Linked DNA regions of Homo sapiens: region 2 is linked to region 1. The links come from fine-mapping of genetic effects on gene expression. A gene starts in region 1. The other region holds a variant in brackets. All regions are shown on one strand. Distances are from middle to middle.

The links. PIP is the estimated chance that this variant, and not a neighbour inherited with it, causes the effect.
Region 2: its variant is fine-mapped to the expression of CEBPZ in esophagus muscle (GTEx, PIP 0.98).

The regions. Positions count from the first base shown.
Region 1 is chr2:37,227,048-37,235,047 of GRCh38, forward strand. CEBPZ (CCAAT enhancer binding protein zeta) reads right to left here and starts at 4,549. Exons shown (of 16, transcript NM_005760.3): 1 at 4,365-4,549; 2 at 497-1,989. The coding sequence starts at 4,520. It overlaps NDUFAF7 (NADH:ubiquinone oxidoreductase complex assembly factor 7), which reads left to right and starts at 4,611. Exons shown (of 10, transcript NM_144736.5): 1 at 4,611-4,713; 2 at 5,059-5,219. The coding sequence starts at 4,659. RefSeq lists enhancers at 3,894-5,093, 4,051-4,500.
Region 2 is chr2:37,441,679-37,450,215 of GRCh38, forward strand. No RefSeq gene overlaps it. Among named protein-coding and RNA genes, the nearest start is that of QPCT, 100 kb to the left of the region's middle. The variant G/A (reference allele first, on the strand shown) is at 4,332.

The sequences.
Region 1 (8,000 bases):
TGCCTCCTGTGCACCTAGAGCATGGCACCATACTGCAGGCACTCAGAAAATACTTGTTGAATGAGTTACTGTGTGAATGCATTCAACTGTGTGAAAGACAGCAGGGAAAAGATAGAGGACTGAGGAGAATGGGAAGACGGAAACTGCAATTATATCTGCAATTTTATTTCTTTAATATCCCAAAAGATTTAAAACAAATATAGCAAAATGTTAATTCTGAAATACTAGGTGGTAGATATGAATGAATCTTTTGGGTATTTTTCTGTATTTTACAACCTCTCAAAATGAAAAATGTATTCAAAGCATCTAATATAATTTGTGCCCATCAGGGAAACAAAGATTAAGTGACTTACTTGAAGGTGGCGAGTAGCAAGCTGCTGAGGGGGCCTAAAACCAAATTTTCTAACTCTTTTTCTTGCCCCACAGAGGGCACTGCTTGTGCTGTACTACATCAAGTTATTATTTCATGTCTCATATTGGAAGGGTATGTTCTTACCTGTATAATGCTGTGTAATATCGATCCGATATTGTCTGCTGAGAATTCATTACTTGGAAAAGCAACATTAAAGCCTGGACACTGGTATTAAAATTCACAATATGCAACACTTTAAACAGTGTGTCAATCTGCTCCCTTACTTTGTCATCACCAGTCTGGGAATAAGGGTATGCCCTATTCACACCTGTTAAAAGGGCGCTAAGCATTTTTGATTCAACATCTTTTTTTTTGACACAAGTCCGAAAAAAGCAAAAGTAAACAGTTATTAATTTGTTAGCCAATTCACTTTCTTCATGGGACAGAGCCATTTGATTTAAAAAGCAAATTGCATAATATTGAGCTTTGGAGCTGATATTTGAGCGGAAGAGTAGCCTTTCTACTTCACCAGACACAACTCCTTTCATATTGGGATGTTTACAAAGTAATGTCTCTAACAGATGGGATGCTTTTGTGGCAATTCTGTTCTGAGGATCTCCCAGTTTATTTACCACTTGCACAAGAAGAGCCTTTTCTTCCTCAGGCTTGTTACAAAGCAGCTCATGAGCCACGGTAAGGGCTCGAGTTTTAGTGGTTACTAATGTATCATGACTTAAAGTTTCTAAGACCTGCACAAATTCAGCCACTAAGTGTTTCAGCTGGTGTTCAAAATACCATAATATCAGTCTTCTATCTCTTGAGTCCTTGTTGCCACTGGACAACTGTTCCAGTTTGTCAAAAGGACGCTGGCTGAAAATCCTCAGCTTCCGATTGTCTGGCAAAAGGTCTGTGATAAGCAACTCTTTGAAAGTATCCAAGGCCATAAGGCACTGCTGTTTGCTGCCCTTCTTTTTAACAAGGTTCACAAGAGTTTCTACAAACTGAAGTGTGTGAACGGCATCATCCTGAATAAGAAGAATCATGGCTGCCATCCTGTCACCTAGTGTCCCCGATGACACAATTGCCTTCATCCAGGTAGAAGAGGCTCCCTTTTGACTATTCGTCTTACTTTTGAATAAGTTGATTTCATGCTGATACAGCTTCTGAGCAAGGGTTTTGTACTTAGATACAACATCCTGAGGCTGGGGTTTCAAAGAATATTCATTGCTGTACTCCAGATCATACCATTTGCCTCCAGGCCTAAGTAACAAAGTCTGTCTCTCAAAAAATTCAAAGATGTTCTGTTTATCTTTCTTTACTTTCGGTGTGGTACTGCCATTCTCATCAGAATGTGGTTCTGGCCTATTCTTATTTTTCACCTTATTAACTGATGTCCTTTGACTTTCTGCTGTATTTTTATTATTTATTTTAGGTATTTTTACTTCTTTTTTGCTGGAATTTTCTTTTTCAGCTGGTTCATCTTCTTCAACTAAGGAAGCTTTTGTATACTTCGCCAAATTAAGATTTTGAATAAATGCTTCCAATTCACCTTGCTGAAGGTCATCGATTGCTCCTTTTTTGCCTCCATCTATCACTTCCTCATTCTCATCCAAAGTAGCCAGCATAAGGTAATCTTGCTGCATTAAAAACATAAGTTAAAAATACATTACAAATGTGAAAAATAAAACCATAAAATAATAGGAAACACAACATAATTTTAAAAATAATTTCGGAACTGGAAAAATCCTTTCAAATTTGACATAAAACTCAGGGTCCACAAAGGAAAGGATAAGTAAATTTCTCTTTCTCTCTCTTTCTTTTACACACACACACACGCACACACACTTTTTATTTCGATATAGGAAAAAAATATAAATTATAAACTGGAAAAAAAATACAAGCAATTCCTATCAAAGTAATTGGGTTTAATCCCTTAATATAAGTTTCTACACATCAGTAAGTGACAACCCAAAAGAAAAATGTGCAAAGGACATGAACAGTTCATAGAAAAAAAGGGTTCTTTAAGAATATGAAAAGATGTTCAACCTCACTGAGGTTTAGACAAATCCACATTAAAACCACAATGATACATCCATCTTTTAATTTATCAGATGAGCAAAGATACACTGCAAGATGAGCAAGATACAATGACAGGTGATGCTGGGGAAGGGGTGGCGGAAACGGCACTTTCATACATGGTTGATGTGAGTGTAAACTGACACAACCTCCATGGAGGACAATTTGTCAACTCCAATCACAACTATTTAATACAAGGCACACATCTGTTGGCCCAGCAGCTTCATTTCTAAAAATTAACTAACTGATTGAGACATGGTCTCGCTCTGTTGTCCAGGCTTGAGTACAGTGGCATGACCATGGCTGAACTGCAGCCTCAACCTCCCAGGCTGAAGTGATCCTCCAACCTCAGCCTGTAGCTGGCACTACACGCCCAGCTATTTAAAAAAAAAATTTTTTTTTGAGATGAGGTCTCCTTATGTTGCCCAGGCTGGTCTCAAACTCCTGGACTCAAGGTATCCTCCCACCTCTGACTCCCAAAGTGCTGGGATTATGGGTGTGAGCCACTGTGCCTGGCTCATTTCTACAAATTTATACTACATATACACTTACAAAAGTGGGGGAAAAACACGATTAAGGTTATTAACTGTAGTATTATTTAAAATAGTGAAAGACTGGCAATAATTTAAATATTCACAATAAATGGCTGGTTAGATAAATTAAGACAGACAAAATGATTTATGCAGCCATAGCAATGACACAGAACGTTATGCACTGATATAGAAGGATTTCTAAGACAGAAAAGAAAGCAAAATGTAGAGATAGGTGTATATATATGGTACCATTTATGTAAAAAAGATACACCCGTATTTCATACACATAAATGAGTATGTATATGCTTGAAAAGGTATATAGTATCCCTGAAAGATATAAAATGCAGTTGTAAAAATAATTGCTTCCTATCAGGGCAATGGTTATGGCTGAGATAAAAGTGGAAACAATTTGACTTCACTATGTATCTTTTAAAGTTTGCACCACGTGTTTCATGTGTATATATTACCTATTCAAAACTTAAATATACACAAGCACAGAGCAAACTGTGAATCTGCCTATCTCTAACTAACTCCTCCACCTTGAAAGTCCAGTCTCCAAACAAAATAATATTAAAAACAAAGTTAATTTCTGTTCCTTATCTGCTTAAAATCTTCCAGTGGTTTTGCATCAAACTCAGAGCAAAAGCCTGCCCTCTGACCCCTCGGCCCTCCTTTCTTACTATTCTCCCCTTAACTCACTCTGCCTCTGCTACACTGGCATTTTGGCTGCTCATGGAATAGGTTAGGCACTCTTCTGCCTGTCTTTGCATTTGCTGTTCCAACTGACTGGAATGGCAGCTCACTCCTTCCTGTCCTTTAGGATTCTGCTCAAACATTTCCGTGATGTGTTTGTCGATCATCTCATTTAATACTAACGCGCTCCCACTCCTTATCGTCCTTCCTTGTTTTATTTTCTTTTATAGCACTACCCCGCGTCTGCTGTACTATGTGTTTAAAAGTTTGTTTACTGTTTCTCTCCCTTAATTAGGATGCTCCAAAAAAGAGGGCTTCTGGGGCATACAGTGACACGTGCATGTACTCTATGAGAACAGAAATGAAAATTCCAATACCACTGGTGTTCAAAACACTCATACCACAAGGTCAGGACCAAGAAAAGCCACTCTCCGACCTGATGGTGTGATGGTTATACCACGTCAATAAAATCAGAAGATCGCCTACATCCTAAGAATAGCCAGAGAATACAACGTTCAATTCGAAACTTTTCTTTTGTAAACAGCAGTGGAAACCGGCGTGGGAAGCGCACCGAACACATGCTTCAGAGGCTGGGATCTCGGTCCTGGACGCCCGCGCTCTACGCAGCGCGGAAGCGGCGGGGCAGTCAGCCTAGCCACCTTCGGAACTCTCCACGCCTGATCCCGTTCCCCGGAGCCCGCGGCCGTTACCTTGGTGCCTCCGAGCCGTAACACTTCCTCCAGGGAGAACCCATTCTCGGCTTCACTAGTATTATCCTCATCCTCCTCGTCCGGATCTTCTACTGCCTCCTCGGGGCGCCAAGGCCGCTTGGCATGGAACTCCAAAGGCTCCTTGACTGCGGCCATGGCGGGCAAAGCATACGCGCGTGAAACTCAGCCTATTTCCGCTCTGCCAGTGGCGTAATTCCTGTCGGGGCGTGTCTTCTCCCGGAAATGGTCTAAGCCCCAGCTCCTGGCGGAGCGAGCTAGCCTGCGAATTTCAGCATGAGTGTACTGCTGAGGTCAGGTTTGGGGCCGTTGTGTGCCGTGGCGCGCGCAGGTAAGCGTCAGTCCCCTCGAAGCCCGGTTGCCGTGGAAGCCGCGTGGGGCGCCTTCCTCAGCTCTTCAGTTGAGGGTACCGGGGGATCAAGGGCTCGGGGGCTCACTTCCACCTTGAAGGTACCCTGGGCTGGAAACGGGTCCGGTACAAACGCAATAGGGCTGCGTAGTCGTGGGCAAGTGGGTGCTGTCTCTGCGCCCCGTGGGCGTGCTAAGCACAGTAGCCCGCGGTCTGCGGTGGGGCGAGGTTAAGGGTTCACGAAGCTGTTTTGAAAACGCTCAGGCGGCTTGCGCTCGTGAATGGTCAGATTTATCATGGGGTCTGTTTAATTTGTGTTTTTCGCAGCCATTCCTTTTATTTGGAGAGGGAAATACTTCAGCTCCGGGAATGAGCCTGCAGAAAACCCGGTGACGCCGATGCTGCGGCATCTTATGTACAAAATAAAGTCTACTGGTCCCATCACTGTGGCCGAGTACATGAAGGAGGTGTTGACTAATCCAGCCAAGGTATGGGTCGGGTAGCCCGAGGACTAGGCCCTCTCTAGCCGATTTGCGAGGTGCAAGCCAGGAGGGAGAAGCCCGAAGGTTCTCAGCCCAGGCAGTGGGGGTGCCTGCCAGGGGAAGAGCCATTTCTGAGGACCTGGGGACAGATAATTTGTCAGTTGGTCAGGGCTGGCTCACGTCAGAGGCAGTGCCAGTAAAGAGGAGAGGACACGGTCCAAGGGTGTTTAGGAGACAGAATGTAGCTGATTGGATTTATGATGCGGGAAGGATGACTTTCCTACTTGGCTGATGGTGGGTGGTGTGGATTCATTGCTTTGGGAGAAGGAATACGGGAGGAAGGATGGAGAGTTCAGGCTGGTATATGAATTTGAAGTGTGTGGGACTCTTAGGTAGAAATCTCCAACAGGCAGCTGGAAATAGGAATTACTGCCTGGAAAGTCGTCTGTGTTGGAATGGCTTCAGCTGGCATTGGAGACATGTGCTGGGTTTTCTCACATGTGCAGTTGAGAATGCAGTCTGGGTCGTCTTCACTGTTCTAGGATTAGGCACAGTCACAGCTTTCTGACCCACGTTTCCTTGTCTGTTCTACAGAGCCATTTGGTGAAAGCCTATAGTCCTTTATTTTAGAATATTTCATCTTTTGCTGGGTTGAAATATGACCTCTGTGGAATTCTGGGGTTAGATTGGCCATTGTTGTTGGATATGGTAGTGTGACTCTAGTGTCGAGGTTTACCCAAGGCCGGTATCTTTCTTTCGATGCCGGTTAGGCAGGGCTGCAAGATAGGTGGCTTAGACTAGTGTGGTGGTACTAGAAATAGAAGAGGGTGATTTAGAAAGGGACTGACAGGATTTGCCGATGGATTGAGTGATGGAACGGAGGAATCAAGGCTGATTCGTACTTTTAGCTTGAGCAGTTGGGTGATGATGGTACCTTTTATTGAGATTAAGACAGACAGGACCAGGTTTGGAGGAGTACTAGGGAGAGGGCCTACACCAGGAGCTGCATTTTATACATATTTTGTTAGCAGTGACATGCAGGTGGAGATAGAAAGTAGGCAATTCGCTGTAAGAGTCTGGCGTTCAGGGCCGGACGTGGCGGCTCACGCCTGTAATCCCAGCACTTTGGGAGGCCAAGGCGGGTGGATCACGAGGTCAGGAGTTTGAGACCAGCCTGACCAACTTGGTGAAACCCCGTCTCTATTAAAAATACAAAAATTAGCCGGGCGTGGTGGCTTGTGCCTGTAATCCCAGCTAGTCAGGAGGCAGGAGAATCGCTTGAACCCGGGACGCAGAGGTTGCAGTGAGCCTAGATTTCGCCATTGCACTCCAGCCTGGGCAACAGAGCGAGACTCTGTCTCAAAAAAAAAAAAAAAAAAAGTGAGCCTGGTGTTCAGAAGAAAGACTGGGCAGGCATATATACATTTGCTCGTCATCAGCATATAGGTCATATTTAAAGCCAAGGAACCAGGGAGAACATACTGAGAGAAAGGAAGGTTTCCCAGCATTGAGAGTAGGGGTAACTCTAAAATGTAGAGGCTCTTAACCTAGGGACCCTTTAATAGAAATCAGGGGTTTCATGAAGCTGGATGGAAAAAATATTATACCTTTATTTTCACTAACTTTCAACTGAAATTTAGCATTTCTTCAATTATGAACATACGCAGCAACTAGTAGCATCAGCAATACCTGTGACTTTGTCATCTGTGGAAATCATTGGTATTTCCTTATCACAATACAGTGATCACAGGCATCTCAGGATTTCATCGTGCTCATCCTTACTTCAAAATTTTGTTAATTATTGGGTCTTTGGCTTGATTATGGGCTTTTTTGTTTGTTGGCTTTTTGAGATAGAGTCTCATTCTGTCACCCAGGCTGGAGTGCAGTAGTGCAATCTTGGCTCACTGCAACCTCCACCTTCAAGGTTCAAAGGATTCTTGTGCCTCAGCCTCCCGAGTAGTTGGGATTACAGGTGTATGTTTCCATGCCCAGCTAGGTTTTTTGTATTTTCAATGGAGATCGGGTTTTGCCTTGTTGGCCAGGCTGGTCTTGAACTCCTGGCCTCATATGATCCGCCTGTCTCAGCCTCCTAAAGTGTTGGGATTACAGGTGTGAGCCACTGTGCGCGGCCTAATTATATTTTTTTAATACACTAGTAAAGAAGTGTATATATCACATTTTTTAGAACATTTGATACACATTTTTCAGTTATTTCTTTGTGGTTCTGTGCATTTAAAAACACTCTGTGAAGGGGTCTATAGGCATCACTGGGCTACCACAGTGGTTCATAACACAAAAAAGCGTAAATACCCCAATAATGTTTCCTTATGAACGGAACTAGAAAGCCTAGAAGAAGAGATGTGTGGATTGAAAAAATGTTCTCAAAAATGGGAGTGACTTGATTTATTTTGAATGCTGAAGGGGGAAAGTTGAAGCTGGAAGAGAGAAGGGGACAGCTAAAAGGACTCAGGGGAGTTGTATGAGGAATGGTCCAGAGCACAGGCGGAGGGATTAGGTTTGGATGAGAGGAGAAGGGGAAGGCATTTCATTCTTGGAGTCCCCAGATTAGGTTAGAGGCCAGGTGGGGATGGGAAGCTGAGGAATTCGTATTTTATAACATTCTTTAATTCTGGAGTGAGACTGGGGCCCATGTCACCTGTAGTAAGGTGGTAGAATAGGAGCTTGAGAAGCATAAGAAATATTTAACTCAATTCTTGAGTGTTTCTTGAAGGTTAGGCATCGTGCTAAAACTTGGGATATGAAGATAAATAAGGCATGATCTTCTGC
Region 2 (8,537 bases), 210 kb after region 1:
TCCTGAGCTCAAGTGATTTGCCTGCCTCAACCTCCCAAAGTGCTGGGATTGCAGGTGTGAGCCACCATGCCCAGCCGGCATTACTCTTTGGTTTTTGTAACTCTTTGATGCCAGGAGAGTAACACATCTTTGAGGATGACAGAAACTTCCTACACTTATCCCTCCACATCTCTTCCTCTGGCTGGTTCTAGTTTGTCTCCTTTTGCTATAATAAAACTATAAACATTGCACTTCCTGAATTCAGTGTGTCATCCTAGTGAATTATTTAAACCTGAAGGAGTCTGTGGAGATACTCAAAATTGTAGCCAGCTGGTCTGAAATGAGTGTGGCCATGGGGATCCCCCAACTTGAGACTTGTGTCTTAAATGAGGGCAGTCTTGTGGAGGATTGTGCCCTAAGACTTTGCAATTTAGGATACTCGTTGCGGATGTCTCAGTTTAAAATCTTTAACATAAAGTATAAAAATCATAAAATGATTATTGAAAATTCTTGGGGTGGGAGATCTCTTAGTAATGTACTGTGAAAAGGGTTTAAAAGTGAAAAACTTTGTGCAATGGGCAAGTGTAACCACCACTTAGGGAAGAGCAGATTCTCAGCTCTGTAACCCAAATGTGCAGCTACAGCATCTAGATGGCTGTTTTTTGGTAGACATTCATATTATTTCAGGACTGTGCTGACCATTTGCTATTTTAGCTTATTCCTCCCTTCTTTTTTTGTAGTAGACTCTGATTTGTGTTTAGAATTTGCCCCTCTGAACTTTCCAAGCCTCCCATTCCATATATACTTCTGTTTCTTGAGCAGAAGACTACAACCAACTTTAAATCCAGTAATTATTTTGGCTTAAGCCCAATCAGCACATTTATTTCCTTTATCCACAGTGGTTGACTTATGTGGCCCATTTTGGTTCAATGAGCTGTGGAGAGATATTTTCTAAGGGTTTCTGGGAAAGAGATTTTCTTGAAATTGCAAAAAGCCTGCCTGACAAGACACTCACTTTCTGCTGGATATTAGGGAGAAAATATGTAGTTACAGAAACCCTTGGTAGCCATCTTCCAAACACAAGATAAAACCTTAAGAGGAAGAAGACGCTGCAGACGGCAGTTTGTGGTATCAATGTTGAACAGCTTATTTGAGCCAGCCCTGAGGCTTATATGACCTCTGAAATTTTCATGTACATGGGTAAATGCATTCCCTTTACTGTTCCAGTCAGTTTGGATCAGTGCTTTCTGATTCTTGTATCCAATACCTTTCTGAGACAATAACTTTAATAAGAAATATGACGATGGTTTTGATAGGGAGTAAAAATCAAGTGTAAAATAACATTCTTACAAGAGAAAAAAGGTGTGGTGCATTGGATCTATGTGTTGGTTTAGGCACATTTGACCACCTCTGGCCTTCTTCTAAGTCCCTTGAAATAAAAGGAAATATATTTGTCAAAACTAGACCCACTACTTTCATGGAAAACAAGAAAGGGCAACATCAACATATCAGAAATGGTGGGAAATTTCCTGGATGATGGAAAGTAATGGGATTGACTTGATAAGGGTTGAAAAAACACACAGAGAAAACAGCTAGGTAGATAAGAGCAGATTCTGAGAAATTTCAAGGGAACAAAGAACAGAAAGGGTCATGTGACAATAGATGGGCCATTGGTACTGAACAGGGGCCAGTTACGTTCATAAACCCTCTCACACTGAGCCACAGGTCACAGAGATGAGGGGTGGGTGATTGTCCAGGTGAAGACACCAAGATTTGCACACTAGACGGTCAACCGCTGCCTCAGCAGTGTTTCTGGTTAGGAAGTGGAAGCTTCTAGAGAGCACACTGTCAGCCCCCCTCAATTCACACCATTTGGGGTGGGAGTGAGGAAGGACCTTTGCAACTGCAAAGCTAACTAAATAAAGCTTCCCAGGTCTTCATTCATAGAGATAAATGGGAATTCTTAAAGCTTCCCAGGTCTTCATTCACAGAGATAAGTGGGAATAAATCTTCCCAGGTCTTCATTCATAGAGATAAGTGGGAATTTTAAGAATCTCAGATGCCATGTAGAAAACCAATAGCTAGAAAGAGAAGGATCAAGCTGAATGAACAGATCACTGGACCACAGAAAGAGAATATTGAGAACAAAAAGGTTACAAAAGAAGTTTATTTTCTGTCTTTGGATATAAACAACAACATTCAAAGAATCTATTCATAAAATAAGAATTGGCAGCTATAAAAAAGTAACTCAGAGTACAGAAGGGTTTTTGAAAATAAAAAATATGATTGTCAAAATAAAAAAAGTCTAATGGAAAGAATAAGTAATGGAATGAACTTAAGACTGCAATAGTGATAGGACTAAGAATAGGATTAGGTAGGCAGGAGGGATTTTTCATTTTATTCTATATTTTTCTATGTTGTTTGAATGTTTTTAAAGTAGTTGAGTAAAAAAGAAAAATTTAAAAATGGAATTGACTCAATAATTCTACTTTTGATAAGTACTTTTTAACATTAATTCTAAGGAAATCAACCCATATGCAGACAAAAATATATGTGCCACATATTTAATACATCTTTCATATTTATAATGCCAAAACATTGCAAATAATCTAAATATTAAACAGAAAAGTGACTTAATAAATTATTGAGTACACATGTTATAATACTTTATGCTACCATTAAAAATCATGTTTCAAAAAATATATCTAAATGTGAGGAAAACATACAAGATATATTAAGTGATAAAACAGAACCAAAACTATACTTCGTATATTCAAAATAGAAAGTATGTAGAACCAAGTATTCATTGTGATTATCTCTGAATGATAACAGTTTTTTCTTCTGTATTGCATAAACTGTTTATATTTAAAATCTATCACTAATTTACTTAGAAAATGCTCCTAGGAAAGAAAAAGGAAAGACTGTGATAGCAAGCAGAACATAGATGGAGTCCACATGGTCCCTTTCTGTATCTCTCTCGCTGAGGTGTATATTTCACTGAGTCTGTGAACCAGGCTGGAGAGAAACCCTAGATGAAGATTCAATTGCTTTCTGGAACAGAAGGTGTGCCTACTGTTTTGTAGTTTTGCTGATTTTGTTTTGTTTTCATTCAGAACAACATTGACATGAACCCACTCAAATGAATCATATTTATTTTAACCAACTGGTGTGGTGGGAACAAAATCTTTATATATTCATGTATGGCATGACACATACAACCCCTACACACACATACACACCCCCAAATCTACTCATGTGTTTCTTGGCCAAAAACTCTTGGGAAGTGTTATGCTTTTTTTCCAGTTTTTTAGCCTACATCTGGCAGATTGAAAAAGTATGAGTATGTACGTACAAGAGAATTTTGCAAAAATATGGCAATCTTTCTTTGCTCTAAACTTATAAAATTTTAATGAATTTGTGCATTCTTACATTCTAGGTATTTTCAGGAATTAAAGGAGATTATCCATTTATTAAAGAGGCATTTTATGTGTTTTTTAAATGAGTTACTATTTGATGTTTGCAATGCCCTGGCAACACATAGGCATTGTACTATTTCCCGCCCAAAGTTACTTGATTAGAATAATAATATTGTTTTTCCTCATAGTAGCTGTCTTCTGTCATTCTTCTTTGTAATCAATAACTAGATCACAGTAGAGAAAAAATGCTTTGAAACAGAACATTGATTTGGAACCTGTTTTTAATGTGAGAATTCAGGTCATTCAACACAGCTAGGCAGTTTTATTTTTTTTGTAAATCCATTTGATAAATTGCCACTTTATGCTTAAATAGACAAGCTTTCGTCCACTCTTCTTCAGTTTTTATGAAATCAGTTTAATGTAGTGAAAAAAAAATCAGGGGCTTTGGGTTCATACCGGCTTCAGCTGGAATTCTGGCTGTACTGTGTCCAAACTGCATGATTTGGGAAAGGTTACTTTTCTGAGCCTCAATTTATTTATCTGTACAATCAGAATAATATCAAGGATGAAGGGAATGACATTTGTAAAAGAAAATGACAAACTAGTATAGAGCTTGAATCTGAGTTGGTTAAATGTTTCTAATAATGTATACTATGCTATAACCATTGTTGTTTTCCTGTACTAGGGGCTTGGTATTCCTCTGGACTGAATTAGAAGCCAGGAGGCTTAGAGTCCAGCCTAAGTTTGGCTGTTACCTGGCTGACATGATCCTGAGCCTGTTCATCCTCATCTGTAACATGAGGAGGTTAGAGGAGATGACTAAGGCTTCTTCCAGCTCTGAATGGGGATTTTGAGTAAAAATCTTACTTTGCACCGTCACACGTGTGGCAGGTGTTATGGCCATGTCAGAGCTGAGACTGGGTTGGAATTAGCAAC[G/A]CCCTCCTTAAAGAGTCTCTGTGTTTGAGGCTGATCAGTCTTCTGTCCTAGGAAGCTGGCAGAGTGCAGGGGCTGGGGGAGGCACTTTTTTTTCAGAAGTAATTTATAAATTGATACATACTAATTATACATATTTATGGGGGTACATATGATATTTTGATACATATATACCATGTGTAATGACCAAGTCAGGGTGATTAGGATATTTGTCACCTCGAACATTTACTATTTCTTTGTGCTAGGGACACTCCAAATCTTCTAGCTATTTCAAAATACACAATAATAGTCACCCTACTGTGCTATCGAGCTCTAGAACATATTCCTTTTATTTAATTGTATTTTTGTACCTATTAACTAACCTGTTTTCATCTCACCCTCTCTCCTACCCTTCCCAGCCCCTGGTATTTATCATTCTACTCCCTACCTCCATGAGATCAACTTTTTTTTAGCTTTAACGTATGAGTGAAAACACCTGATATTTGTCTTTCTGTGCCTGCCTTATTTTACTTAACATAATGACCTTCAGTTCTATCCATGTTATTGCAAATGACAGGAGTTCATTCTTTTTTAGGTGGCTGAATAATATTCAATTGTATACATATACCATGTTTTATTTATCCATTTATTCATTGATGGACACAGGTTGGTTTTGTTTCTTAGCTATTGTGAATAGTGCTGCAATAAACATAGAAGGCAGATATGTCTTCCATATCTTGATCTCCTTTCTTTTGGATAGATACCTGGCAGTGGGATGGCTGGAAAATATGGTAGACCTGTTTTTAATTTCTTGAGGAACCTTTGTACCATGTTCCGTAATGGCTGTGCTAATTTGCAATCCCACCAATCATGTACGAGCATTCCCTTTCTCTACATCCTTGCCAGCACTTGTTATTTTCTGTCTTTTTCTTAATAGCTATTTTAACTGCAATGAGATGACATCTCATTGTGGTTTTGATTTGCCTTCTCCTGTGAGTAGTGATGTTGAGCATTTGCTCATATATATCTGTTGGGTATTCGTATGTCTTCTTTTGAGAAATGTCTATTCAGATCATTTGCTCATTTTAAAATCGGATTATTTTGGGGTTTTTTTTTTGCAACTGAATTTTTCTTAACATCTCAACTATCAGGGAATGAGACTTAACCAAATTTTCTGCTTTGCTTGGAGCCCAAGAGTCTTGTGGGAAAAACAAGAGAACTCTGTCCATTTTTGTAATTTTAATATGTACTGCACTTTCTGAGGTACTTGCGGGGCGGCGGGCGGTGGCGGGGGGGTGGGGGGGTGGTGGGTGGGTCTAAAGGAAGCCAGAATGAAGACAGAGACAAAACATTTATTTAGAAAAAAAATCTCTTTTTGTGAGGAAGAATTTTGGCAGGTTGAGCCGAACTGAGCAGCAGGGGCTAAATATTAGAGTTCAGATAGGACGTGAGGCTGTGCTTATCAACCCAACATGGCCTTTAGTCCCCAAATCCCCTTGCACAACCACCAGGCCCCCTTCCCAGCTCTGCAATGCCTGCCCACTCTATCCACTCTATGGGGAACGGGGCTTTGTACAGAGGAGAGAACCAGAGGGGTTCAGCAGCTCTGCTGTGGCAGGCTCTTCTGCAAGAGTTCTGATGAGAGGCAGCAGGTGTTGTCCAACTGGCTAGAGATGGAGAGCAGCCGAGCTACATAGCTTAGAGGAGACTACTTGGCCTGGAGGGGTTAGTGGCCTGTGGGTGATGGAGTAAAAATGGTCAACAGGGCAGGGAGGCAGAAGGCAGGTGGAGACCATATCGTATATGTGACAATCTCCACCTTTCTTTATGACTTCTAGGGGAATTGATCCAAAGACCCACCAATTGGTGGACATTTGGGTTACAGCCCTGAAAATTCTTTGAACTGGTTGGGAAAAGGAAATTCAAAAAGGTACTGGACTTCCAGCTAATAAGTAGGTGTGTGGGTATGGGTGGAGGAGGATGTCAGGGCTGGGGGTGGTTTTGTATTGACTATTTGGATCTGGGATCTTATTTGTAACCTCTCTATACTTATTGGCTACTCTCACTTTGAATGTACTGGTTGTCCCCAGTATTTAGAATCATGACTTGCTGCTGTTACCTTATAGTTTAGCTTGTCTTATGGCAAGTGCTTGATGCCTGCTGTGTGCAAAAGCCTGCACTAAGTGCTGTGGAGGACGTTGTCCTGCTCTTGGCTACTCACTGTCCACACAGTCTGGCCTCATGATCCTTCCTCTTCATGAGGAAAAGTGCTTCCTCCATCCTTGGATATTTCTCTGCAGATAACACAAGTGGTAGACTAGAACATTTCCAAAATATTATTTTTTATTGTAAAATATCATTTTATATGAGAAAAGTTAAAATTTTCATTTTAACTTTTATATGAGAAAATATAAAATGTCATTTTATATGAGAAAAGAAAACACTTTCGCTCAGAGATCATCACTGTCAATTTGATATAAATTCTTAGAGTCTCCTTTTAATGCATATTTATCTTTCAACAAACATTGAGTCAATTGCATTTACAAAATGAATCACTCTGTGTATATGGTTTTGGAACTTGCTTTTTCATGCAACAATACATTGTGAATAGTTTTCCATGGATAGACAGAAAATCATTCCTCAGCTGGGTCTTGCAAATGACCTGGAGCTTTTATTTTTGTGGATGCTCTCTTTAATTAAAACTTGAGTTCCATATATGGATCTTTTCCTTCCATCCCTAAATTTGCATATTCCAAGAAGCCCATTTGTTAAAAATTATGAACGGAAGGATTGAAGGAAGAGAAATCCTTCTTTCCATTTAAGAACCACATAAAAATGCTCTGAATGTATATTTGACATTATCATCTGCTTCACAGATTTCTTTGGCTGGTATCCATTTAAATTGTTTTACTCTGTGCCACATGGGCTCTGTGAAGCTATCAGCTGGTCTTCACTGGGGAGATGTGGCAGAAGAGAACTGAGAGGTGGTAGAAGGTGGGAGGTGGGGGCAAGGAGAGTCATTGAGAGTAACCAACACTTGTTCCTGATCCAGGGCCTGGGGTTCACGGAAATGTCAGCATCACTCTAGTGAGGACTCATGCACTGAGAAGATTTTCTTTGGAGGCAAATTTGCCTTTATCTTCAAACCAAACAAAATCGAAATGGCCAAATGCAGGCTTTTCTTTTCTGGGGGCAATGTTTTCTGCAGAATATTAATAGGCGTTAGGAACAAAAAAAGGGTTCTGTGGTAAAGCAAATTTGGAAAATGCTGTATTTTACATAAACCTGTTTCTTCAATGCAGGACTTCTCAGAAACTTTAGCATGCTAATATGCACTCTGACCAAGAGAAGGAATCTGTCAACTTTCCCCAAACTCACACACTCTCATTCTCTTGATTTTGGGTATCTGTATATTAACAACTTTGGAAAATGCCAGTCCTGGAAGTATAGACTTCTATTGATACTGAAGTCAGGAAAAACAAAAGTGGTTCCGTTTTGTATTTAGGGTTGAGATGTTAGCCTGTAACTTGTCCTTCTTGGGGTTACTTCAGTCAAAAGCTACCTTCTAATGGGAGGTGGGTGTGACAGAAGTCGTTCTTGGGGATTTTAAGTAACAAATGCTAAGCTGAAATGCTTTTCTGAGAAATCTTTGAGCAGAGCTGGTTCTTTCCTTAGACCGCTTACAAAGTTTGCAAAATAACAGGTGTTGGCTGAGAGATGAAAAGTGTGTTTATAGGTCTCAGTATTTTCCTTCTTATATCCCTCAAACCTTTCACCTTTATAAGGGCTGTCATCCTGGAATGAGACCCAGGCAGCCTTCCTTCCTGGACGCCAGCTGAAGGATCTCTAGTTGCCATCCACGCCCTGCCTCCCCTTCTTGGAGCTGGTGATTTACTGCTGTAGTCTGAACGTTGGAGAATGTTCTTAATGAGCCTTACGACTGGGGGCTGTGCTTGGAGCTGCCTCTAACCACAACTATTCTTAGTAAAAAAAAAAAAAAAAAAAATTACCAGAAAACTAAGACCCCAGAAGAGGACCTCTGATGGGATGGTGGGTGTTTGAAAAAAAGAGGCAGGGTAGCATTCCTGGTTATCCGTAAATTAAAACAAACAAAGGCATATCACATCCAACTGTAGTCAATTGCTCCTATAAGAGAAGGAGTGTAATTCAAAGAGGTTTATGTATTTTGGCGGAGGATGGAGTGTGTGTGGGAGTTTGAAAGCATAGAAT